Homo sapiens: one gene and its partner. The protein of the gene in region 1 interacts with the protein of each later gene in a biochemical or structural test. Each region holds a gene or a part of one and is shown on either strand. Other genes may lie near its edges.

Evidence for each region.
Region 2: the proteins of FBXO15 (region 1) and CRLS1 form a complex in vitro, tested with the Homo sapiens proteins (one study listed by BioGRID).

The regions. Positions count from the first base shown.
Region 1 is NC_000018.10:74,119,458-74,135,363, forward strand, and holds part of FBXO15 (F-box only protein 15), read right to left. Parts: intron 11,202-15,906; coding exon 10,959-11,201; intron 10,158-10,958; coding exon 9,948-10,157; intron 9,320-9,947; coding exon of another isoform or gene 9,196-9,319; exon of another isoform or gene 6,652-9,195; intron 6,645-6,651; coding exon 6,518-6,644; intron 5,115-6,517; coding exon 5,032-5,114; intron 4,054-5,031; coding exon 3,911-4,053; intron 3,563-3,910; coding exon of another isoform or gene 3,381-3,562; exon of another isoform or gene 3,135-3,380; intron 1-3,134. UniProt on the Homo sapiens protein: Substrate-recognition component of the SCF (SKP1-CUL1-F-box protein)-type E3 ubiquitin ligase complex.
Region 2 is NC_000020.11:6,007,035-6,022,940, reverse strand, and holds part of CRLS1 (cardiolipin synthase (CMP-forming)), read right to left. Parts: intron 15,693-15,906; exon of another isoform or gene 15,540-15,692; coding exon of another isoform or gene 15,531-15,539; exon of another isoform or gene 15,523-15,530; intron 13,167-15,522; coding exon 13,029-13,166; intron 7,581-13,028; coding exon 7,451-7,580; intron 1-7,450. UniProt on the Homo sapiens protein: Catalyzes the synthesis of cardiolipin (CL) (diphosphatidylglycerol) by specifically transferring a phosphatidyl group from CDP-diacylglycerol to phosphatidylglycerol (PG).

The DNA of each region.
Region 1 (15,906 bases):
TAAATAAGTAAACTCAGTGTGATAGACAGTGCTATGAAGAAAAATTGAGGCAGGCAGGTGAGAAATGGGGAGAGTGAGGGCTTCTAGGTGTAGCAAAGTGGGTAAAGCCTCACTGAGAAGCTGTCAGTGAATCAGGCTCAGAGAGACATGACCCCCAGGACCCACGCTAAGATCTGGGGCAGTAACACTGCAGGCAGGAGGGGCACACCAAGAATGTGAGGCCACAGAAAGCCTGATACAGTCAAGGAACAGAGAGGAACTCACTAAAGCTGCAGCGGAGCTAGAGTGGGGAGGACAGAAAAGGATAAGGCCAGAGAGGGGATGGCAGCAGTGTGGGCTGAGGTGGGGGAGGCAGAGTGGGGACACACAGGGCTCTGTAACGGTTCACAAGGTTTAAAGGGGAAGGAGAGCTCTGAGGAGCAGCTGTGGCTGGGACCAGGCAGCCATCTCACCTCATCTCTGTGGAAATCGCATCTTGTTCCCCCATTTCCCAGGCCAGCTGCCCACAGTGGTGGCACCAGGTCAGGCTAGATGCCGAATTCAACACTCCATGAGGGCTGCAGCCATGGAGAGCAGAGACTCAGTTCTCCGCTAATACTGGCATAGAAGGCACAGCGTTTGTACCCTTGGTGTGCACTAGGGCACACTGGGGGCACCCTCAACAATGTACACAGTGTGTACTTAGTCAAAGGGATATCATAGTCTCCAGTGTTCATGAATATAACAGAGCTTCAAAATACACATGGCAAAAACTGATAAAACAGCAAAAAAGTACACAAATTCACTGTCAGAGTTGGAGATCTCAACACCTCTCTCTAACTGATAAAACAAGTAGGCAAAAAATATCAACTCTCTCAACCGGTATTACCTAATTAATATTTTCGAACACTCTACTCAACAACAGCAGAACACATTCTTCTCAAGTACACATGGAACATATACCAAAATAGATCATATTCTGGAACATACAACAAATTTCAGTCACTTTTTAAAAATTCAAGTAATACAAAGCATATTTCCTGACCACAATTGAGTTAAATTAGAACTCAGTAACAGAAAGATCTCTAGAAAATCCTCAGATATTTGGAAACTATATTACACACTTCTATCTAACCCATATATCAAAGAAGAAATAAAAAGGAAATTAGAAAGTATTTTAAAGTGAATGAAAATGAAATAAAACATATCAGATTTTGTGGGATGCCACTAAAGCAATACTTAGGTGGAAGTTCATAGCACCAAATGTCTCAATATGATAAAATGAAAGTTCTCAAATCAATAATTTCCACTTCTCCCTTTAGAAACTAGAAAAACAGAAAATTACAACATAAGCAGAAAAAAAGTAGAAAGAATAGAAATCAACATGCAAATCAATGAAATACAAAACAAAATAATACAGAAAAAAAGGCAATAAAACCAAAAGTTAGGTATCTGAGAAGATGAATAAAATTGATAAACTTCCAGCCACACTGATCAGGAAAAAAAAGAAATACAGAAATACATGAATTACCAATATCAGGAATCACATCATGTCACTAGATTCTATAGACATGAAAAAGATAATAAGGGACTATTACGAAGAACTTTATGCCAATAAAGTCAGCAACTTAGATAAAATGGACAAATTCCTTAAAAGACAAAAAATACCACAGCTGACTCAAGAAGAAATGGATAACCTAAATAGCTCCATCTCTTTGAAAGAAAAGGAAACTGTAGTTAAAAGTCTTCTCATAAAGAAAGGTCCAGGCTTGGATGAATTCTACCAAACAAGGAAGAAATACTACCAATTCTATGCAAAATCCTCCAAAAAATCCAAGAGGAAAGAATACTTCCCAATTCATTCTATGAGACCAAAACCTCACAAAGAAATCACAAAACAGCTGGAAGATAAAACGAAAGAGAAGTAACAAGAATTAAATACTTCATAAATATCTTAACAAGAAATGTGCAAAACTAGCATGAAGAAAATTCTGAAACACTCCTCAAAGACATAAAAGTATTTTTAAACAAACTGAAAGATGTTCCACATTCTTGGATGGAACAATTCAACAACATAGATGTTACTATACCTCAGGTTAATATGTGGAATTGAATAATTCTGATAAAAATGCCAACAAACGCGAGAAAACCTAGCAATCTTCCTGAGCCAAAAAGCAAGGAAGACTCAAAGACAAAGAGGATATCTACAGGACACAGAAGCAGCCCAAAGCAGATCCCACCGACCAAGTAACTTCAAAAAGAAATGTCTATAACTGACTATAAATTATTAAATAAATAAATATCCAAGAGTCCAAAGTGACATTAAACAAGGGTGGGGGCGAGGAGGAAAGAAGAAGAGCTCACATTTCTTCCACCACAGGAGATGACTAGTGCCTCAGTGAAACCATGCTCCAGAGTTAAAGAAGCTAATGACTAACAGAAATGCTTGAGTTTGCAAGATGGCAGATAAGAAAAGAGGCAACTTACTAAAATAATAAAACGCCCTCCACTTGTAAGATAAAACTGGCTGAAATCAGTCGGAACCAATATGGCCAACTGGAGTTTTCACAGATGGAGTTTTCTGACATCACAGCCTGAATTCCCACCACATGTTTCATATTAACTCCTCCTGAATTTGCAAGTGACCTACGAGGGCATGAAGAGGTAACTGCGCCATGCCTGAGGACTTTCCAGACCTCCCTTTCCTTCCACCGATCACCTACTAATCCCAGAATCCACTCCCTACACCTTTTCTAATAAAATTACTGCATTAAAGCCAGCATGAGGAGACAGATTTGAGCTGGACTCCTGTCTCCTTATCAGTGGGCCAGCCATAAAAAGCTTTTCCTTTCTCAAAAACCTGCTGTCACAGTATTGGGTTCCAGCACATTAGGCAGCAAGCCCCTTGTGCTCTGTAACATCAATTTCTTCATCTGAAAATTGGCAGTTAAAAGGAAAGAATTAAGCATTTGCTCTGCCTTTATAGAAGTTCACCCAGGTGATAAGAGAAAGTTCTTTACAAAATCTCAGTTGATAAATATAGAAATAGTGACATAATTAGAAAATCAACATTTTTAAACAAAATATTTGATTTAGGCACATATCATTAATGAGTGTCAAGTCCACTAGATGAAAGACTTTGGAGGACCAGGATATTTGGAAAAGAATACTTTTAATAATGAAGATATCTAGTGGTCACCATCTTAACCAGATGATAAAACCAGGCATTACTAATAATGGGACAACCTGACATTATATACCTCTCAATATAATGCAAAATGAAGTACATAACTTCCCTTTTAAAATATTTTTACCAGAAATGTTAAACTTGAATCTAAGCAAGTCCTTACATGAAACTCCAAGTTTACAGGCTACAGTAGAATGAAACCAAAAGGAAATAATCAGATAAGTGAGAATGGGGCATTCTCCACTCCCTCGTTTTTCCTGCTTGGCGTAAGCTCCCTCCTTTCCTCTGTCTGCCCCAGCCTCTGTCCTGGCTTTGGTAGGTGTGGCAAACAGTGATGCAGTACGTAGAGGAGAAAGGCTGGTTTCTCTTTACTCTCATCCTGGAGCGGCACGGGCCCTGCTGGCAAATTTACCACATTCCTTTAAGAAAGAAGGGAAGAAGTCTGGGGAAAGCAGAGAGCATGGAAAAATAATAAGGAAGCATCAGTAGAGAAGATGAGTAGGGGCTACCCCCAGAAGGTGGCATTGAGAGTGATGGTGGTGAAGGAGACAGAGCCAGTTCTGAAGAGACTCGGTCCAGTGAGGACTTTCACAAGCCCTGGGATGACACACGGGTCTGGGAGGATACTGGTGCCAAAAGATTATAAAGTGACCAGTGAGGGCAATTCTTAACTCGGACATCAAAATTGGTTCCCTCACCTCAACCTTTAATTTCATAATGAAATAAAAACTCAATCAATTTCACCTCTCTTGGTGAAGAGATTGCGAAATGTACCACATAGGTAGAAAACCCCACCGCTGTGCAGATCAACATGGAGTTGGTAGCCGTGCAGTCCATACTCGGGGCTATCATCCAAAAAGGGGCTATGTGGAGGCAGTTCATAGGGGCTGAAAAGCAAAACAAAAGAAACATACAAATTTGTCAACACCAGGGATAAAATTCTTGGTTTGAAAATACTTTTTAAAAAATTACCATCTGTATCAAAGCACTACCTCCTACAAATGAAACTCCATAGGATTCCCTATAATCTTCAATACTGTGAACTTAAAAGACTGCTCAATGTTACTTTTACCAACTTCTATAAAAACAGGCAATGATGTGAGTTCTGTAGGCAGCCACCGCCCAGCACGGGTGCACATGTTTCTGCAGCTGATCCCAGCATGGCCACTCTATAAAAGCCACTCTGCCCTCCGTGTTGTTCTCAGTGTCCAGGGGACAAAAGTGCTCAGCAGGAAAAGGCACTGAATACCGATCTGCAGGACAAACACCCAGGCAGACCCAAAGCCAAGACAAAGTTTTATTCAACAAGAAAAACATGACTACGTAAGGTGACAAACTCAAAAATACTCAGGAGCTTCTCAGGTAATTAAAAAAAAAAAAAATGAGTAAGGGAGTCTAAGTCCACAGGAAAAGGGTGAGAGCTGTAGTGAAATGGGAAGCCTGTGCGCCACCTAAAGACGCGCAAATTCATTAAAAGACACACACTGTCCAGACCGGACAGAATCATCCGCAGGCCAGGTTCAGCCCAAGGGCCATGAGTCTACATGCCTTACAAGATGTGAAAATTCACATAAGAGCAAGAACTTGAAGGACAGTAGTGGCATCTTGAAGTAATCAAGCTATCCTACCCATACAAATAACAACCTACTAGGTACAAATTCCTTGACCCAGAATAAATAAAGCAAATATGTACTCGTGAATAATCCAATTATTTTAGCGACAGCTAATTGTGCCTGTTGGTTTGTGTTTACTGATTAAAAACAGAATATCTCTGCAGCTATTCTCAGGATATTAAGATGGCATCAACTTCTAATACTTTATATTTACTGTACAAAAATTCAACACACCCACATATAAATACATACATAGTAGCCGAGCCTAATGTGCTCCTCTCCACAAGGTGATGAAAATGAAGATTTGCCATAACAAAAGCCAGTTCTTCCTCCTTCTGAAAAGTTAATTGAGAAGAATACATATTTCAACCAAAATGCTTACATTTTTCACAAGATCATTGTGAAGATCACAGCACATTCATCTTGCAGATAGAGGCACTTTCTTACAAACATAAGATCACCACAGTGCTAATGCATTATTACTGCTAATATGTTACTACTATCTAATAAGACTTATATTTCATATTGACAGCAGGACCACAATTCACCCAAATATGCAGAGCACACAGGACCAAAAGAACTCACAGCCTAGAGCTTGTGAAATATCAAAAGATATATATGATAGTTGTGAAACTATGCAGTTAGTTCCAGGCTGTTTCAAATTCCTTTCAAAGACTTTCACAGATACCAGATTAATTCTACAAATACTGAACTTTACTGACACAATGTTCCTCTTGCAAGTAACTGCTTGATTTGGCCAACGTGGTGGGAATGATTAGATTCAACTTCTTCACTTGTCCATGAGGTTGAATAGCAGAAAATGCGACTATTTGGGGACTGACCTCCATTTCTCCCCAGATTCACAGCTGACACTGATGGGCATAGGTGACCCCCAAATGGTAAATTTGAAGGTGCCACTCTCCAGTAGCCAGGCAGAGGACAATCGAAGCCACCAGAGTGCTCACAACTCTGCAACCAACAAAGCTGGATGCATGCGAGTCACCGAATGCAGAGCAGGCAAGCTGCGGTCTCGCCCACAAGCCACCTTCACACAGAAAGGGGAGGAGGGAAAGAAAAAGTGACGGCCACAGTTGGCTAAGGAAAAGGGATGAGGATGGTGTTGTCTGAAGCTAGGGTCTTAATCCCGTCTAGTCATTGTAAACTAATGCATAACGCCAACTCAGAAACAGATTTGTGAACTACTATCTTAAAATATCAGCCAGACCTGGTGAAACGAGAAATCTTATGCAGAGAGAAAGGATAACATCGTAGACAGCTGACCCTGAAGAGCAGATTTCACTCAATGCCGCACCTACAGGATCAGAAACAGGCTTGGGAGACAAGCGTGCTGAACACATAGTAAGGGAAATGTTGTCAGAGAAAGAGCATGAAAGGAAGAGAAGAAGGAACGTGGACTGATTGGAAGTGGGAAAGCCACATGACATGAAAGGAATAACATGAAGGAAAACATGAAGGCAGGAAGAGGTTGTTGTCTATGATAGCAGAACAGCAGAACAACAGATAGCAGAGTTGTCTATCATAGCAGAACAGCACAGCAGCCTCGGTGGAACAGAGAGGGCCATGTTAGCTTGAAAAAATGAAGTTGGTGAGATGGTAAAATGGATTGCAGTTAGTGAAAAGCTTAAAGGATTTTACATTTGAAGTCATACATAATGGTAAGTAAATGTGGTATTGTGATGGGGAAATGACACAGTACATACAGGGACTCAAGTCTTACCTTCCACACTCCCACCAGGAGGCCAGGGTGCAGGCAGAAGATCCGAATGAGTCTGTCACAGCCAATCATGGTAGATATGGTCAAATGACTCAGATTGTACTTTGCAATTAAAGAATGCCATCGGAGTCTTTGAACGTTATGCCAAGGAAAGGAGAGAGAGAAGTGAGCTTTCCTGTCCATAGTGTTGTCAATTCTCTTTAGTGTATCACAAATGTGTTTGAAGAGCATGTTAATGATGTGCTCAAACTAAGTGGCATGTTGGCAGGGTGAGGACACAAATGAATAAAAGGCAAAATGGATACATTCAGATTTCCAAGCCAACTAGGTATTTCTTCCCCTCCGTCTTGCTCTTACTGTCAACTCAATGACCCAGCCGGGAGGAAGTTGAAGGACCAGGAAAGTGATGAAGTGGCAGCATTGTCTCCTGTTCTATTCCCTCCAAATCCAGCACAATACAATCTAAAGTAGACTCTCAATGTGTATTCCTAGTCAAGTGAGTAAAACAACACAGAAGCAAAGATACACTATTTCAAGTGACATAAGAACGGGTGGTCTCAGGAGATGGCTGGAAAGCAGATGGGCCTTTCACAGTTATCATCAAGGATAACTCAGAGATAGTGAAAGTTGACACATCAGAAATAAACTTAAACTAAATCACCAGTGTTTTCATAAAGGAGACACTAACACAGCATTAGACTGAAATCCCTGAGGAGCTGGGGCCACATCTCATTCAACAGTTGGTGCCCAGCACCTCAGGCACAAGCCAGCAGGCAATAGGAATTCAAAGGTACATTAAATAAATAAGTTAAAAAGGACACCAGCTGCAGTCCAGCTTCAAAGTGGAAGGGACTGTGAAGCATCAAAACCAGATCCGCAGCTGCCACATGACCCTAGTCCCATGTTCAGCTCTTCAAAATAACTTCTTGTGCAGAGAACAACAACTGGGTAAGGAGAGACGGTCGGTGAACGTGTGTGATGTAGAAATTAGAAATAAACCCAGCATATGCAGAATACACTTGGAGGAGGATAAATGCAGGGTCAGGAACCTCACTGTGGAGTCAGAGAAACCTGAGGTAAAACCTTAGCTTCAACCTACAGTGACTTTGCGACTATCACAGGCTGGTTCTTTGTGTATGAAATCACCAGCCTGCTGAGTGGGGACAAGAGCACACGGCATGGGGCAGGTGCTCAATAAATCGCAGTCCCTGCTAGTATCATTAATGTGGATAGAGGAGGCTGGGTGGGGATGTGAGAAACCTTCTTCTCTGAAAATCTGGCTGTAGAGGTACTTATTAAATAGACTCTGGGAATGTGCTGAGTCCTCATGTGCTTGGCCTTACAGCCACAGACACAGAAACTAAGGCTGACGTTTCCCCAGCAGTTCTCACAAATTTAGGGTGGGACAGCACAAGCTGCAGAGCAGAAAGTGCTGGCAAGGAAGAAAATTTGGAGTCTGACTAGAAAGGTATAAATTACAGGGAAATCCAGATTACATCAATGAGGCTTTCACTGTTGTTGAAAAACTTCTCATAGAGGAAACAAAAAAGACCCAAATAAAAATCACAAAGGCTCTTTTTGGCTGTCACACAGATGCGTACAAGGATTTATATTCCTGCACAATGAAAGCATTCACTTACAAACTTGCAATAAAAGTGCCGATCAAAACAAATCCTAAAAAACACTTTTAGTTTTGTTTATCACAGTTGATCAAAGGCTGGCTGGAGTCCATGGAAGTTTCACAGAAATAAATTACATCAAATGAATTTTCCCAATGAATTCTAGCATTGGGCACTATGTAGTATCTATTACTTCTGACCTTGATGACCATTTCAGGGAAATACTGTCTTTAACTGAGCTTTATAATTCAACATTATCCATTTAACTTAATTCTTCAGGATCATTTGAATTAATGTTAGCCAGTTTGTCCTAATATCTGTAAGTAACATTTCATGATATGCCAAGTAACATATTGTTTAGCAAAACTAGTACAGTTTGTGGACTTGTTCTCCAAACGTAATTTTGAAATGCATAAAGCCTAATTACTACATTAGAAAAAGCTGGCTTCCTTCATGATCCCGTATGAAATTTCAAAGATTTATCCAAATAAAAGTACCATTTTTTAAAAGGTAACTGTTTCCAAAGTATCTTCAGTAATATATTTAGGAAAAATAATTCATTTTTCATCATAACATTAAGAATATTTTTAGAGTACAATAAAACCTGGATTTGCCAGCACCAAGAGGTCTGAATAGTCTTACATTCAGAGCATGGGAAGAGAGCTCAGTAATCACTAAAACAATGCTCAAAGAGCAGGCGCCATGGAGAGGAGCCAAAAACAAGGTCCCCAGTTACAGAGCTGCAAAAAAAAAAAAAAGTGTCTGTATCCAGGGAAACCATGAAAGAACCCTGTCCCTCCATAGAGATGGCAGGCACTAATGTCAGATATCACAGTATCCTCCATAGCAAGGACAGACAGGAGAGAAACCAATGGGTGGAACTGCAGCACGCAAGGATGGTAAGAAAACGACATGGTAAATACTCCTGAAAAGTCAAAGAATACTGAGACAGTGAAGGAGATGGGAGGGCAGGAAACCAACGCAGGAGAAGGCAGGTATTACCTTTATATTTGCAATATATCTTATATAAAGCTATGTTAGCTTGCTCCAGAGATGAGGATGCTATGCATGCCATAATCCAGCTTTTAGGAGGAAGCAATCAATGATGAAAAAGACAGCCCGAGAGAGCTGCTCAGAAAGGCAGAATGCCAGCCTCATAGTGAGTATGGACTCAGTGCAAAGCCACCTGACAACAGAATAGTAAAGGGCTCACTAAGCATTACCCATGTGCTGCACACTTAGCTGATCTACGCATTTTATAGTGATATCTTTTGATCGATCTTATTCATTGCAGTCATATATGCTAAATACTATGCCAGTATAACGATCATTCCATTTCATAGAGGAGAGAATGGAGACACAGAAAGAGTAAGTTACTTGCACAAGATCACATATCTAGTAAGTTCAACAGAAGGCAGACAAAATAACTCATAATTATGACTTGGTTTCCTCATATTTAGACTATGATTAGTATACCATTTACTAAAGAAGGAAGATAACATATATCTTTCTGTTAAGATGGTTAAAATGAAAAACCTCAAAGGTTAGCCATCAATCATCCAGGAAATTTTGTTAACTAGAACATCATTCTTTACCATTAAAGACAACCCCAAGATACGAGGAAGTTAAATTTAGACCTAATCAGAAATGTGATAAAATGCACTCTTTTCCTCTTCTGCATTAATGCAGAATGTACATTTAATATGTGATAAAATTAAAAAACGCTGCTCTTATTTTTTAATTACAAAAGTAATGCCAACTAATATTTACATATAAGATGCTCTCACTCAACAGTTCTGCTGATTGGTACTTACCTATGTTTGGTGGGAGTTTTATACCAGTCGGTAAAAACTGGTGTCATGCCACATAAATCTAAGGTTGACAATGATGCTAGGCATGGCCATTTTTTGCCATACCATATAACAGTAACTGATGTGTCATTTATGGAAAGATCAACATGCTCCATGATATATTCTTTTCCACCTTTTTCTTTCAGTATAATTGCCCAACCTAAACCAAATATTCTGGAGAAAGAAAAAAAAACTAACAATGTTTGCCTCATTGAAAAAAAAAAAATGCTAAAGGCAATTTCATGTATCTTCTCTAAAGCATCTAGTTCCTTAAAAGCCAAAGTCAAAATTCTCAGAATGTGCCCAGTATAATTTTCACTTCAACAATAGTACTCTCTTTAGACTTTTTCTCCTCACCTAACACCCACTGAACATCCATGATTTTCCAGGTACTGGCAATATATAAATAAGACAAAGGTTCTGCCCAGAAAAGAGACCTTGAACATTCTTATTGTACTATAGCAGATAAGTAGGTTACTTCTGCTTTTCATTAAAACTTTAGGCTACTTACTAGTTATCCCTCTGTCTCCGCAAGAAATTGGTTCTAGGAACCCCATGATACCAAAATCTGTGGACGTTCAAGTCCCTTATATAAATGGCATAGTATGTGCATATAACCTATGCACCTCCTCCCGTATTCTTTAAATCATCTTGAGATTACTTATAATACCTAATACAATGTAAATGCTGTGCAAACTGTTGTTATTATGTATAATGTACTGGTTTTATTTGTATTCTTTTTTATACTGTTATTATTGTTTCAAGTTCCCCCCCACTAATATTTCTGATCTGCAGTTGGTTGAATCAGCAGATGCAGAAGGCTATGCGGAATAGGAAAATGATACATATTTTATAGATGCACAAAACACACAAAAATACTAGAGACAGTCCCACACAATCTAAACTGCACATACGTCCTACGTACACGATACTTTGAGCTGATGCCATCATTCTCTTTTGGAACACACTGCGTACCTGAGGGCCTCTTTGGTCTTAACTGGAAGGCCTGTGTAAGGGTTGACAGGTTTGAGAATGTCAGCTAGTGCGGCTTTTACAGATGCTATTTGTTTTGTGATATATTCTTTCTTCCAATAACCAGCTTCTTTATCCTGAACTGACAGAAAGCTCATAGACATAGCTATCTTCTCTACTGAATTAAATTTCCAATTTGATCTTGCAGGTGAAAAAGCAGTTGAGTAGATTCCGATCCAAATAAAACTGGAGGGAAAAGAGGAAATATGTTAACTAAGAGACACTGTCACCTACCTTAGTCATAATATATCAAATTAGAGATGCATATTTTCAAATAATCCAATTCCATGAATAAGCCAAGCTGAATATTTACAGTTGAACGTTCATCTGTTAAAGTGAATTGCAGTTTGAGATTTAGTGTTTTAAATTCAACACCACCAAAAACACATTTTAAAAAAAGGAAAAGCCCATTTCCCAGGGTCAGGTCTCAAGTGAGTAATCTCACGTTATTTAGGATCATCCAAACGACTGCCCTCTTATACCAGTAATGGAATAGGAAATATATTATTTAAACATAACAGAAAGTATATGTAGTATGATTCTTGTTTTTAAATACATACATGCTTTTAAAAAGATCAGAAAGGATGTATGTACACACACCAAGAAATTTCAATAGGGAACAATGGAATTGAACACTCTTTTTGCTATTTTTTAACTTTCAACAAGGAATACGCTTTCACAAAGAGAAAAAAAGTGAAGGTTTTTAATGGTAACAACTAAACAATAGTTAACATTAAATTTTGTCAACACTTACTATGTGTCAAGCATCGTTTAACCACTTTATGTATTATACATGACTCATTTATTCCTCAGAAAGAAACCAGGAGGTGCTGGTATTCCTGTCCCCACTGCATAGATGCTGTAACTGAGGCTCAGATGCAAGGTGAGCTGGCCCAGGTCTGTGCACTCAAGTGTATAGTGAAGCTGGGATCGGAACCAGAGCTCACACTCTTATCACCTGGGTTTCACTGCCTCTTCAATCACAAAGAAATGGGTCAAAGAAACTGAATAAGCTCCCCAAATTCAGAGAGCCAATAAGCCTCAATGTTGGAATTCAAATTCAGCTCTGACTCAAAGTCTGTTCCTTCCACTCATCTCTACTAAGAGGGCAGGAGAAGCCCCACGAGTGGTGGCAGTGAGCTGGCCTGAGAGCTCCTCCCTCTCAGCCAGTACTCTCCACCAGGAAAGAGAAGGAAGACACAGGGAAAACTGAGGCAGCGGTTAAAATCAATTCCTTATCTGAAAGGCAAACTTTGCATTTTAAACATTAATGATTTGCTCATTTAGGTCTCCACATTACTACTCAGAGCAGCATGGGATGAAGCAGTCAACGGCCTGGAGGCTGCAAGGAAAAAGCGATTCCCCCACAGAGCAGTGGTCCTGAACTGCAGCAGGACCCCTGGGGATAACTGGGTGCTCTGGGGAGGCAGAGCTATTTCCTTAACCACAGCAGAAAAGGACCATTTCTCAAACACGTGACTTTGGAACACCACCTCCTTGACTCAGACATTACATGGACTTCCCAACAAATGCAAGCTCACATACAGTCAGACCCTGGTTGAATTCTCTTCCTAGTGTGGGTTTCTCAGTCATTTCTCACTCTGCAAAATCACTTCATGCCTAGCTTTTATATTAAAGTGTTTGTGTTTTCAATTCAGAAATTTCTAGACTTTCCTATGTAAGCGGACAGATGCAATGCGATGATGAGTTGAGTACATTTAAGTAAAGCTGAAACTGTTTCACCAAAATCCTTTGAATAGACACTTTTAAAACTCCCTTTGCATAAAAGCTTGCTTGTGTTTTCTTCACATTTATTTTATTCAGCATCTCACCCTATGTAAGTATTCCTTTAGCAGGACCTTTATGGAGCCTTGAATTCCTCACATCAGCACTATCTAAACAACCTCTGATACTATTTTTACATGTGTTAGCACTTACCAACTGCAAAAACAAACACTGCCGCAGAGATGGGAATCACAGCATAAACTCCACATGCAGTGAGTAACCATAACCACAACTAACATTCGTATGATGAACTATGTTCACATACATGATCATATATTACTTACCGTAAGTGAACCTAAGTGAAAACATTTTATATTGCAGATGGTTCCCCTTGATTTTTTATAATATACAAATGTTAAGGTTCAGATACCTTTCACAGTCTCCAAACACATTTACTTCTTGATCCCCAAATGCTCCATCCTGTTAGAAGGCCTAGTCAGATTCGAGGACGAGGGCATATTTATCCAACAGAACTACCAACAGGCTCAGGGAAACTCAAACAAGTTGTTTAGAAAATGGGGCCAATTTAATGTTCAGATAAATAGTGTTTGCCAGAGTACATGGCAAATAAAACCCCCTTGTGATAAACCAGATGTCACCTCATCCACACACCCCTGTTTTTCTCACGCAGAGACAGGGCTCACACAGAAGGGAGTAGCCCCGCTGCTGGGATGGGGCACTGGGGAGCCCCCTGCCCTTCAAGTGTGCCTGCCCATAAGTCATCAGTGTAACTCACTACACTATGTGTGCTTGCCCTCTCTTCAGAAGTAACGCTTAGAATACACTGTAAACTTTTCAAAAACACATATTGATTACTTGTTCAATTATCACACATCCTTTTCTGTAGTCTGACTTCATGATCAGACGTTGACTTTAAGAGTCAGACTATGACTCTTTAGGTCCTTTAACAGGACCTAAAAAGTGCAATTCAACTTAGCACAATTAAATATGTCTTTTGAAAAAGAAAAGAAATGTGAGTGCAATTTCATCAGTAGCTCATATTTCCAAACGGCAACTTCCAAGAAAGTGAGGAGGGCACACAAATAATACTAAAAGTATGCAAAAAACATCACTAGAGCCATGCTCCAAATCTGATTCCAGGCCTGGTTTCTTCACCATGCAGGTGAAGTGGAGAGAGAAGACAGTAAAGAAACTAAGAAATATACAATGTATCAGCTTATCTGAAGAGTCTGAGTTCTACCCTTAAATAAAGTGGGAACCCTCCAGAATGCTAGTTTTAGATATTTGGTTGACTCCTTCCTTGAAAAATGCCTTGCTGTGCTTTCTTTTAGTGACCACCTTCATCTCTTATTAGATCATTGTCATAGTCTCTTTGTGTTGCTACAAAGGAATACTTGAGGCTGGGTAATCTGCAAAGGAAAGAGGTTTATTTGGCTCATAGTTCTGCAGGCTATACAAGGAGCACAACACCAGCATCTGCCTCTGGTGAAGCCTCAGGAAGCTTCTACACGTGGCAGAAAACCAAGGCGAGCCAACTGTGCAGAGATCACACGGCAGAGAGAGAGAAATAGAGTGAGTGAGCAAGAGAGAAGGAAGGGAGGTCTGCCAGGCTCTTTTAAACAACCAGCTCTAGAGCAAGAACTACAAGGAAGGCACCAAGCCATTCAGGAGGGATCTGTTCCCATGACCCAGATGACTCCCATTAGGCCCCACTTCCAACACTGGGGATCAAATTTCAACATGAGGCTTGGGGAAACAAACAAATCTCAACTACGTAAACTACAACAATCATTAAGGAAGGGAAATGTAGAAATTGCTCTAATTCATTCTATAACTACTGTGAAGAACATTATTAGTTCATTCATTGATATGTGTATGTGTGTGTTTGTGTGTGTGTGCATGTATTGACATAGACATACATATATTCTTCCATATAGGAAACATCTCTTTAAATTAAAAGAAAAATCACCCTTTCCAACTAGGGAACAGTGTATGTCCTCTTCAGAGTATGACAATGGTTGAGGACAGCTTTAATGAGATCTGAGGGCTTATTCTGAGTTCCTCACTTAAGTGGCATACACCTAACAACAAAGATGGACTAGATTAGTTATTTCGGAACTTGACTATTCATTAGTATGACCTGGAGAATTTTTTTTTTTTTTTTTTTTTTGAGATGGAGTCTCGCTCTGTCACCCAGGCTAGAGTGCAGTGGCGATCTCAGCTCACTGCAAGCTCCGCCTCCCAGGTTCATGCCACTCTCCGGCCTCAGCCTCCCAAGTAGCTGGGACTACAGGCGCCTGCCACCATGCCCAGCTAATTTTTTGTATTTTTAGTAGAGACGGGGTTTCACCGTGTTAGCCAGGATGGTCTCGATCTCCTGACCTCGTGATCCGCCCGCCTCGGCCTCCCAAAGTGCTGGGATTACAGGTGTGAGCCACTGCGCCTGGCTGGAGAATTTTTAAAATACAGATTTCAGAGCACTAAATTATAATCCCTAGAAATGCAGACTAGGGATGGAAATGTTTTAAACTTTCCCAGGTGGTTCATATGTAGTCTTCCCTGGATGGCATCTGAGAACCACTGCACTAAATGACATTCTTGTCCACCATGTTCCAGGGTTAACTAATATGACAGCTCTCATTCTGCCACTCTCCGTCTCCTTACCTAGCAAACAAAACCATCAGTTAAAACCGGCATTCCCTCTCATCTTGCTGATCTCCCCAGCTGACATGCAGGTTCTATGTAGGAATGATGTTTGTCTGATCTTTTGATGCTAAATGAGAGAGGGGCCTAAAAAGCCAAGATGTTCTGTTGTAAGCCACGAAATCCTCACTGAAAGGAGGATTCCACCATCTCTCCCTCCAAGATACAATTCTGAGATGCAGGCTAAGATTATAGTGACAAACAGAAGCAGAGGTTTCTCCCCTTCCTTCCTAGATCCACCCCCTGCAAGACCAGATGACCACAGGTGAACCCCTCTCTTTTGGCTCCCTTCATCCAAGCGTACAACCTCTAGGAGAGGACAGTCTTGGCCTCTCTCTATCCATTTCGCTCTCCCCACAGAGTAAGTTAACTTGATTGGCATGTTTGGGAGGAGAAGCTAAGTACACCTAACTTAGTCTCTTCCTTCTCTTTCTTTAGGATC
Region 2 (15,906 bases), on another chromosome or scaffold:
TAACACAGAAAAAACCCACTGAGATGTAATGGATACGGGGAGAACGTCTAACATAGGTATACTGTAGCCCCAAAAGAAAAGAAAGAATACACAACAACAACATTTAAAGAGATTGTGGCTGAGAATTTTCTAGCACTGACTTCAAGATATAATGCACAGATTGAAAAGTCCAATAAATCCCAAGCAGAATAAAACAGAAACTTGCAACAAGAAATATTATTGTGAAACTGAGAAAAACAAAACACAAAGAAAATCTTAAAAATAGCCACAAGAAAGCAAAATTGCCTTCAAAAAAAGCAACATGGCCGGGTGCAGTGGCTCTTGCCTGTAATCAGAGCGCTTTGGAAGGCCAAGGTGGGTGGATTGCTTGAGCTCAAAAGTTCAAGACCAGCCTGGGCAACAGGCAAAACTCCATCTCTAAAAACCATATAAAAATGAGATGGGCATGGTGGCACACACCTGTAGTCCCAGCTACTCAGAAGGCTGAGGTAGGAGGACTGCTTGAGCCCGGGAGGCAGAGAATGCAGTGAGCCGAGATCACACCACTGCACTCCAGCCTGGGTGACAGAGCAAGACCCTGTCTTGAAAAAAAAAAAAAAAAAAAAGCAATGGATTAACAGCTGATTTCTTATTATCAACAATGGAAGAAGATGACTGAGCAATACCTTAAACATGCTAAGAAAAACTAATACCAACTTGGAATTCTATACATAACAAAAATATTCTTCAAGAATAAAGGCAAAATAAAAACATTTTCAGAGAAAAAGAATTTACCAGTACACCTACATTAAAAATAATTCCAAAAGAACATACTTCAGACAAAAGGAAAATGATCTCAGATGGGAGGTCTAAAATACATCAAACAAGACAGACTAGCAAAAAGTAATAAATATGAAGATAAATTTAAATGAACATTGTATAAACAATATCTGTGAGTTTAAGAAATATATAAAAGTATGACAACAGTAGCCTAAGCTGAGAGAAATAATTGGAGTTCAAGAATTCTAAGGTGCCTCCCATGCCCAGAATGAGTACAGAATTATTAAGATCATATTTTTATAAAGATAAATGTTTTAACTTGGAGGAAAACTGGATGGAAACCGTGTAAAACTTTCAAACTAGTAGAGTGAAAGAAAATATAATTTAAAAATACTAAAAAGGACAAAACATATGTGCCAAATAAAATACTTCAAGTAAAATAAAAGACTGAATGAAACATCTATCAATCACAATAAATATTAATGGGTTAAATGCTTCTGTTAAAAGACTATATGGGTTAAGACAAAATGGGTTTTATTTAAAATATGTTATTTACATATATATTTACATAAATATGTTATTTACAAGTGATATCTAAAAAGATGCAGAAATGTAGAAGGTAAAACATTTATCATGCAAACACTACCAAAAGCAAGCCAGCAGAGCTTAAGAACCCACAAAATATATTTTAAGGTAAAAATCATTACTACAGCTATAGAGGGTCACTTCATAACAAAACATTCACTTCACCAAGAAGACGTAACAATTCTAATTCATATTCACTTTAACAGCATAACTTCAAGACATACAAAGCAGGCCGGGTGCAGAGGCTCACACCCATAATCCCAGCACTTTGGGAGGCCGAGGCGGGCAGATCACTTGAGGTCTGGGGTTCAAGACCAGCCTGGCCAACATGGTGAAACCCCGTCTCTACTAAAAATACAAAAATTAGCAGGGCATGGTGGCACGCACCTGTAATTCCAGCTAGTCAGGAGACTGAGGTAGGAGAATCACTTGGACCCAGGTGGCAGAGGCTGCAGTGAGCCGAGATGGTGCCATGGGACTCTAGCCTGGGAGACAGAGCGAGACTCCGTCTCAAAAAAAAAAAAAAAAAAAGATACAAAACAAAATCACAACTACAGAGACAAATACTGGAGAACCAGACATACAGTAGGAAACTCTAACTGCTGAACAAACCAAAAGCAAAAGAACAGTCAGTGAAGAAAGAGAAGACTTAAAAAGCAGGATTAGGCCGGGCGCGGTGGCTCACGCCTGTAATCCCAGCACTTCGGGAGGCAGAGGAGGGCGGATCATGAGGTCAGGAGATCGAGACCATCCTGGCTAACACAGTGAAACCCCGCCTCTACTAAAAAAAAAAAAAAATACAAAAAATTAGCCGGGCGTGGTGGCAGGCACCTGTAGTCCCAGCTACTCGGGAGGCTGAGGTAGGAGAATGGCGTGAACCCAGGAGGCAGAGCTTGCAGTGAGCCAAGATTGCGCCACTGCACTCCAGCCTGGGCGACAGAGCAAGACTCCGTCTCAAAAAAAAAAAAAGCAGGATTAAAAACTTGATCTAATAGACCTATGAAGAACATCATACCCAAGAACTGCAGAATATACATTCATTTCAATTCATTTCAAGTATTCATGGAATATTTATAAAATCTGACAGTAGTGGGCTGAAAGGCTGAAATCACAGAGCATGTTCTCTGAACACAAGGTTATTATGACTGAAATTGTAACAAAAAGGTAACTAAAAAAATCCCCACAAAAATGGCAACAAATTAAGATATATTTATTTTTAACCTAACAGGTCAATGAAAGAATAATAATGGAAATAGGAAAATATTGTATACTGGACAATGACACACTAAAACCAACATAGGAGATGCAATGAAAGTGACACTTAGAGGAACATATACAGTCTTATATGCAATCTTTAGAAAAGAAAAGCTGAAAAACAAGTTAGGTATCCACTTATAGCTGCACTGCTCAAAACACACACTAGACTATGAAGGCGTATAGGAAAAAAATTCTCATTAATTTATTGATTACATGTTAAAATGACAATATTTTTGATATAGTGGATTACTTAAAATATATCAATTTTCATGTTTCCTTTTTTAAAAACTACTAAAAATTTTTAATTACATAAGAATCTTCATTTTATTTCTAGACAGAATTGATCTAAAGAATTTAGAGCCAGGCATGGTGGCTCACACCTGTAATCCCAGCACTTTGAGAGGTAGAGGCACCTAAGGTCAGGATCACTTCAGGATCACCTGAGGTGAGGAGTTCGAGGCCAGCCTGGCCAACATGGTGAAACTCCGTCTCTACTAAAAATACAAAAAAACTAGCCAAGTATGGTGGCACACACCTGTAATCCTAGCTACTCAGGAGGCTGAGGCAGGAGAATCACATGAACCCAGGAGGCAGAGGTTGCAGTGAGCTGAGATCATGCCACTGCACTCAAAAAAAAAAAAAAAAAAAGAATTTCGAAAAAGAACAGCAAAGAAAACCTGAAGAAGAAAAAAAATAAAACTACAAGATGTAATGAAGTAGTAAACAACAGATCAGAGAGGCTTGACAAAACCCAAAGCTGATTCTTTCAAAAGATTCATAAAACTGACAAACCTCTGGCAAAAAAGATGAAAAAAAAAAAAAAAAAAGGGACAAAAAATAATCAAGAGGAAAAGGAGGACATTACTACATATCCTACAGACATCAAAAGGTTAATGAGAGCTATTCTGGGCCCACTGCCTATAGGGTAGCCCTGCTCCACAAGGAGTAGTAAGTAAATAAATAAAGTTAATGAGGATACCATAAACACCGTATGATACATTTTTTATAATGTAGACCAAATGGACAAATTCCTAGAAAAACATCACAACTTAAAAACTGGTCAAAAGGTGTAATATGGAGTGAGTTGGTTGAAGGTTAAAAAAAAAGATGTACTTTAAACCTGAATCATCCCGTAACAATTAAAGAAAATGAATTACCTATTTTAAAACTCTGCCCTAAAGAAAACTCCAGGCCTCAACGGCTTTAACAGATTCTACCAAACATTTAAGTAGAAATATTCATAATCAAACATCTTCCAAGAATGGAAGAAAAAAAAAAGTCCCCAATTCATTTTATGAGGCTAGTTATAAATTTGATATGAAAACCTAACAAGAATATATGAAGAATTCCAAGCCAATCTCATGAATTAAAATTTGAAATCTTCCACAAAATATTAGCAAGCCAAATCCAGCAATCTCTTCATAATATATCATGGCAATGTTGGATTTATACCAGGAATTGCAGCTTGTTTTAACATTAGAACTAATATTGCATTAATATGTGTAATTCACCACACATGAACAGCTAAAGGGAAAAATGATATGACCATAGGAATACACAAAAGGAGTTTGATAAAATTTAATATCCAGGCCAGGGGTGGTGGCTTATGCTTATAATCCCAGAACTTTGGGAGGCCAAGAGTTCAAGATCAGCATGAGCAACATAGCAAAACCGCATCTCTACAAAAAACACAAAAAAATTCAGTACCCAATTGTGAGAAAAACTCTTAAACTCCCAACAGAAGTGAACTTCTTAACTTGAAAAAGGATACTGACAAAAACCAACAGCAAACATCATCTTTAATAGTGAAACGCTAAAGGCTTTTCTATGAGGTTGGGAATAAGACATTGACACCACTCCTTGCCAACACTGTACTACTCAGTGCAGTAAGGCAAGTAAAAGAAACAAAGGGTAAAAGGACTGGAAAAGAAGAAATACGTTGTCATTAATTACATACAAGACATAAATAAGCATGTAAAAAATCCAAGCAAATTTATATGTATATTGTTAGAATACAAGTTAGCAAGTTTCGCTAGACATAACAATCAACATTAGAAACAGTACTGATTTTTTCATATCAACATGGAGTTATAAGAAAATAATTTTTTTTTTTTTTTTTTTTTGAGGACAGAGTCTCACTCCATCACTCGGGCTGGAGTGCAGTGGTATAATCTCGGCTCATTGCAACCTCTGCCTCCCAGGTTCAAGATATTCTCATGCCTCAGCCTCCTGAGTAGCTGGGATTACAGGCACGTGCCACCACATATGGCTAATTGTTGTATTTTTAGTAGACAGGGTTTCGCCATGTTGGCCAGGCTACTCTTGAACTCCTAATCTCAAGTGATCCGCCCACCTCAGCCCCCCAAAGTGCTGCGATTACAGGGGCAAGCCATTGTGCCCGGCCAGAAAATGAAATTTAAAAGCTACCATTTATAAAAGCACCAAGAACTATCATGTACTTAGGAATAAGTCTAACAAAAGTGTTTATTATCTTTCTGGAGAGAACTATAAAACTTTGAGAGATATTAAAGCAGACCTCAATGGAGTAGATACTGGACTGGAAGACTTAACATTGTAAAGATGCAAATTCCTCCAAACAGATCATAAGTTCATTGCAATCCCAATCAAAATCCAAACAGATTTTTCTCTGGAAAATTGCTGATTCTTAGAAAAGCTGATTCTAAAATTTGTAACAAATGGAAACAAATGGAAAGGGCTAAGAATGTCCAAGGTGGAAGGACTCACTCTACTGGATATCAAGACTTTTAGCAAAGCAATAAGAAGAATGCCACTGATGCAAAGACAGACAAACAATGGGGAAGAAAACAACTTAGAAATTACCTTGCACTGAGTCTGAAAAATACAAATTTTTCTATAAAAAGTGCTAGGATAACTGGGTAGCCATATAAGCATTAGAAAATGAATTAAGAGAGATAACTTTTTAAAGAAAACATCAATTAGGAATCACATTTTCTTAAAATCCTAAAAGCTTTCCAATACTAAACACAATCCCATGTAAAGGAAAAGGTATCCAAATGATAAGAGACTGTTCCGTAGCAAGTTGGAATCTCCAAGTCTATGGAAGAGGGTCTTCACAATTCTGAATTAAAATCATCTGCAGTTTAAAAATTATGCCTCCAGCCTGGGCAACGTGGTAAAACCCTATATCTACAAAAAGTACAAATATTAGCCAGGCGTGGTGATGCACATGGTGGTAGGTTCTTGGGAGGCTGAGGTCAGAGGACTGCTTGAGCTGGGAGGTTAAGGCTGCAATGAGCTGAGATTGCACCACTGCACTCCAGCCTGGGTCACAGAGTGAGACCCTGTCTCAAAAAGAAAAAGAAAAGAAAAAAAGATAAAAGATAAAAAAAAGTGATGCCTACTTCAACTGTCAATCATGTATGGAAGACAAAATAGAGACACTGAGATGTCTAAGACCTCTAAAAATCTGGCTGCCACACTCCATCCTTCTACAGAAAACAACTGGAGAAAAGGAGTAACTTAAAGCAAAGGAAGACATGGGAGCCTGGAAAAACAGACTCAACACAGAAGAAAGAAAATGGAAACTCTAAGATTGCCAGTGAAGGGAAGTCTCAGCTTGGAAAGCAACCTACACCAATCATATAAGTAAAACTCACAGCAACATTACCCATAATTCCAAAAAACCTGGAAACAATTTCTATGTTCAATAGCAAAATGACTGGCCAACCTTTGTAAAATACTACATCAAAATACAATGTAACTTTGAAAAAATGGCAGGGGCCAAGCAAGGTGATTCAAGCCAATAGTCCCATCACTTTGGGAGGCCGAGGTGGGAGGATCACTTGATCCCAGAAGTTCGAGACCAGCCTAGGCAAGAAAACTCACACACACACACACACACACCCCCATTCCCCAATCACATACACACCTCAATTCTAACTTTCAAAGAAGCACATAAAAGTAAACATTAGTCCAATTTATTTTTTATTTTGGTACGAGAACTTAAAAGACTAAAAATCAGAAAGAAAAATAATTTCCAGTTGGGGGAGACTAGACTGAAATGCCACTATACTTCTTTCTACCAAGTGTCAATAATAACATGATACCGAGGGACCATGTGGCAGCTTCTTTGTTCTCAGATACAATTTCTTTCTTTCTTCCTTTTTTTTCCCTTTTCCTAAACCTCAAAAATGCAAACTCTTAGACTGACAGTGAAGGGAAGTCCCAGTGTGATCAGATATGATTCCTAGCTCTTGGGAAAAAAACAGTTTAACTTGGTCTGAGGGAGAAAAACTGAGAAATACGACTGAAGAAGAAAATGAACAATCAGAAAAGCACATGCAAAATACAAAGCAAAAAAATCATGAAATCTTATCAGAAAAAGTATTCATATAATGTACAAACTATATATATGATTTAAAAATTGCATAATAGGGTCTACATAATGTGAAATTTTATAGACATCTTCAGAATTTCAGAGTTCTCACTTATGATTAAACGATATTAATAAAGATAATAAACGTAGGAAAACTAAATTGCTTTTGAAAAGCTAGGCACTAAAAATACATAATGTATCACCAAAAAATTTCAGAGTAATATGAATTGGCACTGTGAAATATTTATTCAATTTTAATTTTAAACAATCTTACTAGGAAAGCAACTGATTTTACTAGTAAAACAAGGACATAAATTCTAAAATCCACAAGTAGTTTGACAAAACAGTTCAACAGTTTAAAATTAGGGAAACAGTTTAAAGTTGAAAACTATATTTTTGGAACAAAAATTATTTGTCTCTCAAGAGAAATCCTAAGCTGACTAATGTCATTCTTCCCTGTGCTATTCAAAAGTACGCATGACGCGTTCTTACCTGGAATAAGATCTGCATAGGTCAAGCTAACATATAAGATACTGATAAGTATTTTATCAGCAAGTGGATCAAGAGCACTTCCCAAAGCTGATCTTTGATTGGCCCAGTTTCGAGCAATAAATCCATCCAACTGAAAATAGAAGTTTTTTTTTATATATATAAATGTCATAACAGGAACAAAGCAGATATTCTGAAGCTTAAGATATACCAGAATAACAATTATACTCTCATAAAATGTTAACAAAATGTCTTCTGTTTCTTACCCCCAAACATTCTCATTCTTTTGCTGGTATACATTTCGCTTTTAAATTAGCAACTGGTCTTAAAATAAATGCACATTTATTTTCTTTCCCCCTCAAGTCCTTCTGGTTATTTCTCGGTATTTTCACAAGGCCCCTTTGTGGGATGAACCCAAATACACATTTAGAGATACGGTTAGTGATGTATTTACAGCTATAAAGAACCCAAAGAAAACTCAAAGAAAGCATGAACGGCAGAGCCTGGACTAGGATAATATAATCCAACTCTGTTAAAACTTACCATTTTTCTGTTTTTCAACTCATTTTGCTCAATACCACTGTTTATTCCATACTCTGACTGTATCTGCATTACCTACATTTGAATAGAAAACTCAATCCTCTCTACCTGGCCTAGTTAAAATTCTGATACTTAAATTATTTATTTTTATATTATTGTGATTAAAAATAAACCATTTAAAGCATAAGTCACATCTAGTTGCTAGTGGGCCAAATGGAGCCTGTAAGCTGGTTCTGTTTGACCTATCAGAGCTTTTAAAAACTGTAATTAGTTATCAACATGTAAGTATTCAATTCTTCCCATAAAAACCCAGGTCTCCATCCTAACTTGAGAAGGGAGCGGTCTGGCCACTCTGGGGCCACAAAATGGACTGAAATCAAGTACTGTCTATTCACATTAAACAAGGCAGATATTTTCTGGTTTATCCAAGTCCCTTCCTGGCTTTTACTCATTTAACTTCAAGTTTCAACAAATGTTTGAGTTCTCTAATACTATTTCTAAGGGGAAAAAAGATTAATTTAGACGCAATTAATCATGGTTCATTTTAAAGAACAAGTAAGTTGTCCATATCTCAAGTATTCCAATGAGTTAGAGGAGACAGCGGTAGTCCAGGACCGTGGTAAAAAAAAATGTGGTCTTTGTAGCAGAACAGAAGCTGTTCAAGTCCTGGCTCTGCCACTTAGTAGCTGTGTGATCTTGGATAAGTTATTTGGCCTGACTAAGCCTTAGTTTCCTCATCTGTAAAACAGAGATAAATTACCTACCTCAAAGGGGTGGTTGTCTTCAGCACACAATGTGATTAATACTTGTTCAGCACTCAGCACTTAGTAAATCCTCAAAAAAAGCAGTTACTAGCTATTGCTATTGCAACTGAAAAAATCTATTTCCTTCTTAAGCATACGAACAGAAAAGTACCTAGCCTGGGGAGCTGGGACCTTGGAAGATCAGGTTTAGTTCAGTTTCTGACCTCAGGGAACTTAACCTTTCACTTTTTCGCCATCATCACCCTCTCATCTTCACTATTCCTCTAATCCACACTAGATTCCAAGGTCATCAACATCATTCCTTTATAAACATCTGTAACTCCCCTTCACTCCACTCTCCTTCAACACTGCTTAAAAGCAACTCTCCATGTACTCTGGGCCTGCACCTAAGAGCTGAATAGTGCTTAAGGAAAACACACAAATGGGAAGACTGGTCTCACTTCAAACTGATGACCACAAATCTCCCATGGGCACCCAATACTGCCTAGCAATCCCACACTTGTTTACCATATTTACCCTCTCTTTTCACACTGTCTCTTCCACACTGTCTCTGCTCTCACCTCAGACCTAACTCCATCCCTCTCGCTCATGGTCATGTCTGTATTTTCCTTAAGGAAAAAGAAAACCGTAGTCAGCCCATCCTCATATTCCCATCATCAAATCCCCCACCTACCTGCATCCATTCATTCTCTCTGCCTTCCTTCATCCGTTCCCATGCCCTCTCACCTTCTGTGACCTGCCTCCCTTCTTCCCCATCTCCCCTTGCATCATCCATCTCTCCCTTTCATTTAATCTTTCTACCTGATCATTTAATTAATCAGTTAACTAACAACAAAAATTCACTGGGCACAGTGGCACACCTATAGTCCCAGCTACTTGGAAGGCTGAGGTGGGAGGATCGTTTGAAGCCAGGAGTTCAAGGCCAACCTGGGCAACACGAGATTTATCTCAAAAAAAAAAAAAAAAAGGCCAAACAAAAATTCCCCAGTATATACATATACTCCAGCATATATTTTTATATATAGGATTTTATATCTATCTATCTATATACACATAGATATAATTCCCCAGTATATATCTTTTTAAAAGACCCTTCTGTGATCCTATTTCTCTATCCCCCTACAAAGCAAAACTGCTTCAAAGGAACGTCCAATGTCATTACCATCTCACATGTGTTCATCGACCCACTCCAATCGTCCCCACCCCTCCAGAGGTGAGGCTCATAAAGGTCACCAAGGAACTCCGCATTTTTAGAGTACCTGACCTCGACACAACTGAAGCACTTTCTCCACTTTCTGGGAAATCTCACTGCCTAATTTTCTTCCTCGCCAGCTATTCCTTCCCAGGGTTCCTGACTGGCTTCTTTTCTGGTGCTTTACTTGTTGCTCATTTCTCTGACCCTTCATTCCTGTTACCTCAGCCTGGATGATTTTACCCAGATCCAACCATCTATATCTGACAGCTCCCAAATTTCTCTCTCTGTAACGATGACTTCCTCCAACTCCAAACTACTAAACTGCCCAACTGATACTTCTATGTGGATAGGCAACAGAATTCTTAGTATTCTCCCTTAAACTCTGCCCTACTCAAGTGTTGCCCATCACAGAAAATGTCATTTCCATGAACCTGGTTTTAGAAGAGAATTTTTTTTTTAAAGTAAGTCCCTAGTATTCATATTTGACTCCTCCCACTCTCACTCCATATCTAATCCATCCACATATTACTTCTGTCTTTAAAATATATCTCAAACCCACACACTTCTCTCCAACTCCAAACTCCAACCCCAGTCTAAGCTCCCACCACGGCTGCCATGGAACACGGCCAGCCCCTAACCAGTTACTCTGCTTCCACTCTTGCTGGATCATGGTCAGCCCCCTAACCACTTACTCAGCTTCCACTCTTAGCTGTCTATAATCCATTTTCCACACACAACGCAATCAGACTTTGTCGTTCCCTGGCTTAAACTGATGAGTCCGACCACCTCCCAGTGGCCAATTGAAAGGCACTAAAATCTCCATGGAACAAATGTGAAATGTGGCACCAGTTAACTTAGGTTTCCACAAACATCATCTTATATATTTAGTAAAATGTTAATGGGGCCTCTCTAACATTCAATGAATACTGCAATCTCATGTGGCAGCTTACAAGAAAAAAAAAAACGTAGCAGACAAAAAAGGAGACTACAGTAACTGAAAAAGATCTTGTCTGTTATGTTAAAAAAAAACTGTTATCAGTATAATGGCCTTTGACAGACTTGGAGATAATATTAACAATGAATGCAGGCTTTGGGATAAAAGAAGGGACAGGCCAGGTGTGGTGGCTCACACCTGTAATCCCAGGCCGAGGGAGGCCGAGGTGGGTGGATTACCTGAGGTCAGGAGCTCGAGACCAGCCTGGCCAACATGATGAAACCCCATATCTACTAAAAATACAAAAATTAGCCAGGCATGGTGGTGCATGCCAGTAATCCCAGCTACCCAGGAGGCTGAGGCAGGAGAACTGCTGGAACCCAAGAGGCAGAGGCTGCAGTGAGCCGACATCACGCCACTGCACTCCAGCCTGGGCGACAGAGTCAGTCTCCCCAAAAAAAAAAAAAAAAAAAAAAAAAAAAAAAAAAGCAGGGACAAAAGAAAAGGAGAAAGATTGTGAGAATGGGAAGAGGTAGTGACAAATATTAGTAGACGCTAAACTCTGGAAAAAGAGAGGTAAAGCCAATTTGGGAGGCTATGTTTGAAGCAGGTTTGGAAATGCCATGTAACAATGCAAATGCTCTCTTTTGTCTGCACTCCAAAATCTTCTGTTAATTTTATGTTGCCCACCAATGCTACTGCTACTAGGAAGGTGGAATTTTGTTTCTATGAACCTCGAAGAGAACAGCTGATGTTACAAAGAAAGACGGCATACAACTTTTATTAATATAAAACTAGTTTCTCTCGATTCTCACTCAATAAATATTGAGCAAAGCTTTTCAAACATAAATTAGTTTGAAGAGGCACCAAAGCACCGCCTGTCTGGATGCTCATATAGATCTCAGACCAACCTTGTACAAGAATATAATGTATCTATTTCTCCTGCTAACTCTGCCCTGGTTTAAAATTATTCCTCCATCTTTTCCACACTTCCCTCAACTATGTTTTTATACAGCATGAAGTTTTTCCTTTTTTTTTTTTTAAGAGACAAGTTCTTGCTCTGTCACCCAGGCTAGAGTACAGTGGTGCGATCATAGCTCACTGCAGCCTTGAACTCCTGAGCTCAAGCAATCCTCCTGCCTCAGCCTCCTGAGTACCTAGGACTGCAGGCGTATGCCACCATGCCCAGCTAATTTTTAAATTTTTTGTAGAGATAGGCTCTTGCTATGTTGTGCAGGTTGATCTCAAACTCCTGACCTCTCAAAGCACTGGAATTACAAGTGTAAGCCACTGTGTCCAGCCAGTTTTATAATGCATTTCGAAACTTTTTTGAAATAAAGTTGGTAATACAAATAATGTCATACATGATGATGGCTAGCCAGTCCACAAAAGCCTATTTAATGTAGCCTTCTGTTATAAAATTATTTTCCAGTTCTAATTTGAGATCATCTGAATAAATCCTCCTCTCCTCTATCAAAACTAACAATGTAGTATCAAGGAGAGCTCCTCTTCTTTGTCCATCTGCTGAGGGAGGAGAATGAAGGAAGGACGTCCAATTGTCAGCCCAGAGCAGAGTATTCTGCAGGGCAGTCAGAGGGGTGTAGAGCAGAGATCAGAAAATAAATCTGTGGGGGTACCTACAGCCTTCTGCTAGCATGAAACCTGAGCAAAGCTATGACTTCTACATGCTTCTGGTCATATCCCAGTTCCCTGGGTCATAACAACTGGTCCAGTTTCCCTCTCCACTAGGAAAACCAACTTTTTTTTGCAGATCTGAGTATTCCTCTTTACCACAATACATAGAAAAGTCATCTCAGATCTCCTCTCCTTTATTTCTATCCCTAAAGCAAGCACTCAGCTCTTTGGAAATTTCTAAGGGTGTTTCTTTCACTCTTAAAAACCAAGAGTACAAAGTATCCCCTCCTTTACTTCCCTACAACTTTCGCTTCCTCCTTGAAATCATATGAAAAAAAAAAAAAAAAATCCCATATAGATGCTAAAGACAAAGTCCTCACAAAAAGTACCACGTCAAATTCATCTTGAGGTTTTCCTCCCAAGGAAAAGCAGGCTAAGGCTATGCTATTTCGGTTTAGTAGTACAGACCAGGATTTGGAAGGAGAGCAAACTGGGAGTGCATTTACAACTTACCAAATCTGTTAGTCCAGCTAAAGCAAAAACTCCTAGTGCAATATTAAAATCTTCTTCAATAATCAAATAGCCCAGAACTGGGGCCAAGCCAATTCTCGTCATTGACAACATATTCGGGATTGTCCATGGGTTTTCATACTGAAACACAAAGACAACAAAATTTAAGTAAAATACTATGAATTCATACTTTGAATAACTATATACATACATTAGAAAAATATACTTCATCAACTTCAGTCAGAAGCTACATAAACTTTAAATTTAGTACATTAAATTGAATTTTAAAATCCATTCTGTTCTTTTTACAGATATCTCCCTAAAATCTTCTTTCAAGAATACAGAAGATGGCTGGGCATGATGGCTCACGCCTATAATCCCTGCACTTCAGGAGGCTGAGGCGGGAGGATCCCTTAAGCCCAGGAATTAGAGACCAGCCTGGGAAACATGGAGAGAATCCCATCTCAATTTTTTTTAATTAAAAAAAGAAAAAAAAAGAATACAAAAGATGAAGATGTATCATGTACCGAAACACAGGGTAAGGTGTCTTACATATTATAGGTTTCCTTTTCTCTTTTTTTTTTTTTTTTTTTGAGATGGAGTCTAGTTCTGTTGCCCAGGCTGGAGTGCAGTGGCACAATCTCGGCTCACTGCAACCTCCACCTCCCGGGTTCAAGTGATTCTTCTGCCTCAGCCTCCCAAGTAGCTGGGATTACAGGTGCCCGCCACCATGCCCAGCTAATTTTTGTATTTTTAGTAGAGATGGGGTTTCACTGTGTTGGCCAGGCTGGTCTCAAACTCCTGACCTCGTGATCCACCTGCCTCGGCCTCCCAAAGTGCTGGGATTACAGGCGTGAGCCAGCATGCCCGGCCTATTATAGGTTTTCTTAAGAGAGGGAAGACAGAACACATGTATTATCTGCCATATAAGCTAAGCCTTTAATATATAACTTCATTGTAAGAACTCAGAACTTTCAACACTCTGCTTTTAAAGGTGAAACTTCAGGAAGATCTTGTAAATAGACAAACAGTGTCTACTTACAAGTAAAAGTGTCAGGAAAAAAGGCCAAATTATCAACTCCAGGCATTCAGCTTTAAATACTGCAAAGAATCTCCCTCACTCCCTTACACATATCTAAAGAATGCTAAATGCTATATAGAGTGTATGGAGGTTTGAATGAAGAGAACAAAAACAGATTTAATTCTATAACCTCATCACTAAGTCAGAGAACTGCTAGAAGAAAATGGAGATAGGAATAGGGATTGTGATATTTGGAAATCGAGAAATTGTGTAAATTTGTTCAAAACAGTCATGGAAATGTTAAGATCCTCAACTAAAAACCAAGGACTTTCACAGCTCCCATCTGGGGGCTTTGCAATTCCTAGACAACTCATTTGGAGCCAAGCTGTTTGAAGTTGGCACTAACAAAAGAGCTCTTTGGCAGCTGTCTGAAGAACATCCCCTTCTTGCCAAACAGAATCTGACTCATGAGAGGATATTTCAGCTTTGAAAAGCCTCGGCCCAGCGGAGCTAAGACACCTTGCACAACAGGGTACAGAAATAACAACAAGAAAACGCCTTTCCCTGAAGCCTAGATTTTTTTTCTCCGCTGTGTCAAGACTGCCAATTCCACTCCATGGGACTTTCTCTTCTCTAGAACCCCTTTTAACCTCTTTCTTAATCAGTACTAGCCAACTTGCCTGAATCTTAATTTTGGTTGTAAAAAAGGTGGCAAAGGCCATTTCTGAAGATTCTTTTAAAATTCCATTTCTGAAGATTCTTTTAAAATTCTATGAACTATCCTGTAAAAAAAAAAAAAAAAAAGTATTCTCTAAAGACACTATGTCTGTGTTTATAAAAGAAACCCAGCAAGAAAGCACCTCAGCTTGGAGGGATAATTAAATAGTTATTGCTGGGGTCAGGTGGCAGAATACTGTCATTGAAAGCTATAGAAAAACTTCAAATTATCCGAAGAGCAATCACAAAACAAGAAGCAATACAAACCTCTACTCTGAGATCTTTTACTGAAAGTAATCCACATTATACAATGAAAACATTCTTGGAATACATCCCAAATTCAAGTTCAAATATCAGAGTGTTTCAGAGTCCAAAGAAAAAAGATAAGTCTGTTGACCATACTATGGTAGAGAATAAGTCAAATACTGATCAAAGGTTACAGCAACTCAAAGGGAAGAGTGGGAGGGGAGAAGGCTGCACACGGTTGCAAAAAAGCAGTAAGCAAAAGATCAGAAAAAAGGTCCCCAAATTAACTTCAGAAATTATCCACAGGGCAAAATTAAAGACAAAGTTGTAAACAGAAACATCATTTCATTTGGCGAATTAACAAACAGAACTCAATGTTGCTGGAACAGTGAAGGGAGTTCTTTTTAGCTCCACATAGAATATTTCAGTTAAGGTGTCTCATTAATTTGTAATCATTAAATCCGTAAAAGTTTCAAAGTTAATGTTAGGAGAGCTAATCTCAGATTACTCAACCAGATAACCTGTGGCATACTCGACCAACTACTGCCGTTCTGGGAAGGACTTCAGTCAGGATATGGCAACTTCAAAGTATCCAGCATTCAAACCCCAACATGCTTTAGCTATCAGTGGAGTTGAGACCCCTGCCAGGATCTGGCCACCTCAACCCATGCTGTACAACTGATGAAAGCAGTACAGGGGCCACTGAAGACATAACAATTGAAGATGTAATAATTGCATGAGTCTTGCTAACATGACATCAAAAGCTCTCCCACACTCATGCTCGGGTGTCTTCTGTCTGGGTAGCATATCAACAGGTAAGTGGACAAATACTTCCCTCCGTTACCTCAAGAATAGTTTAAATCTTTTTCTATAATTAAAGGTTAAAAGATCTTTTAA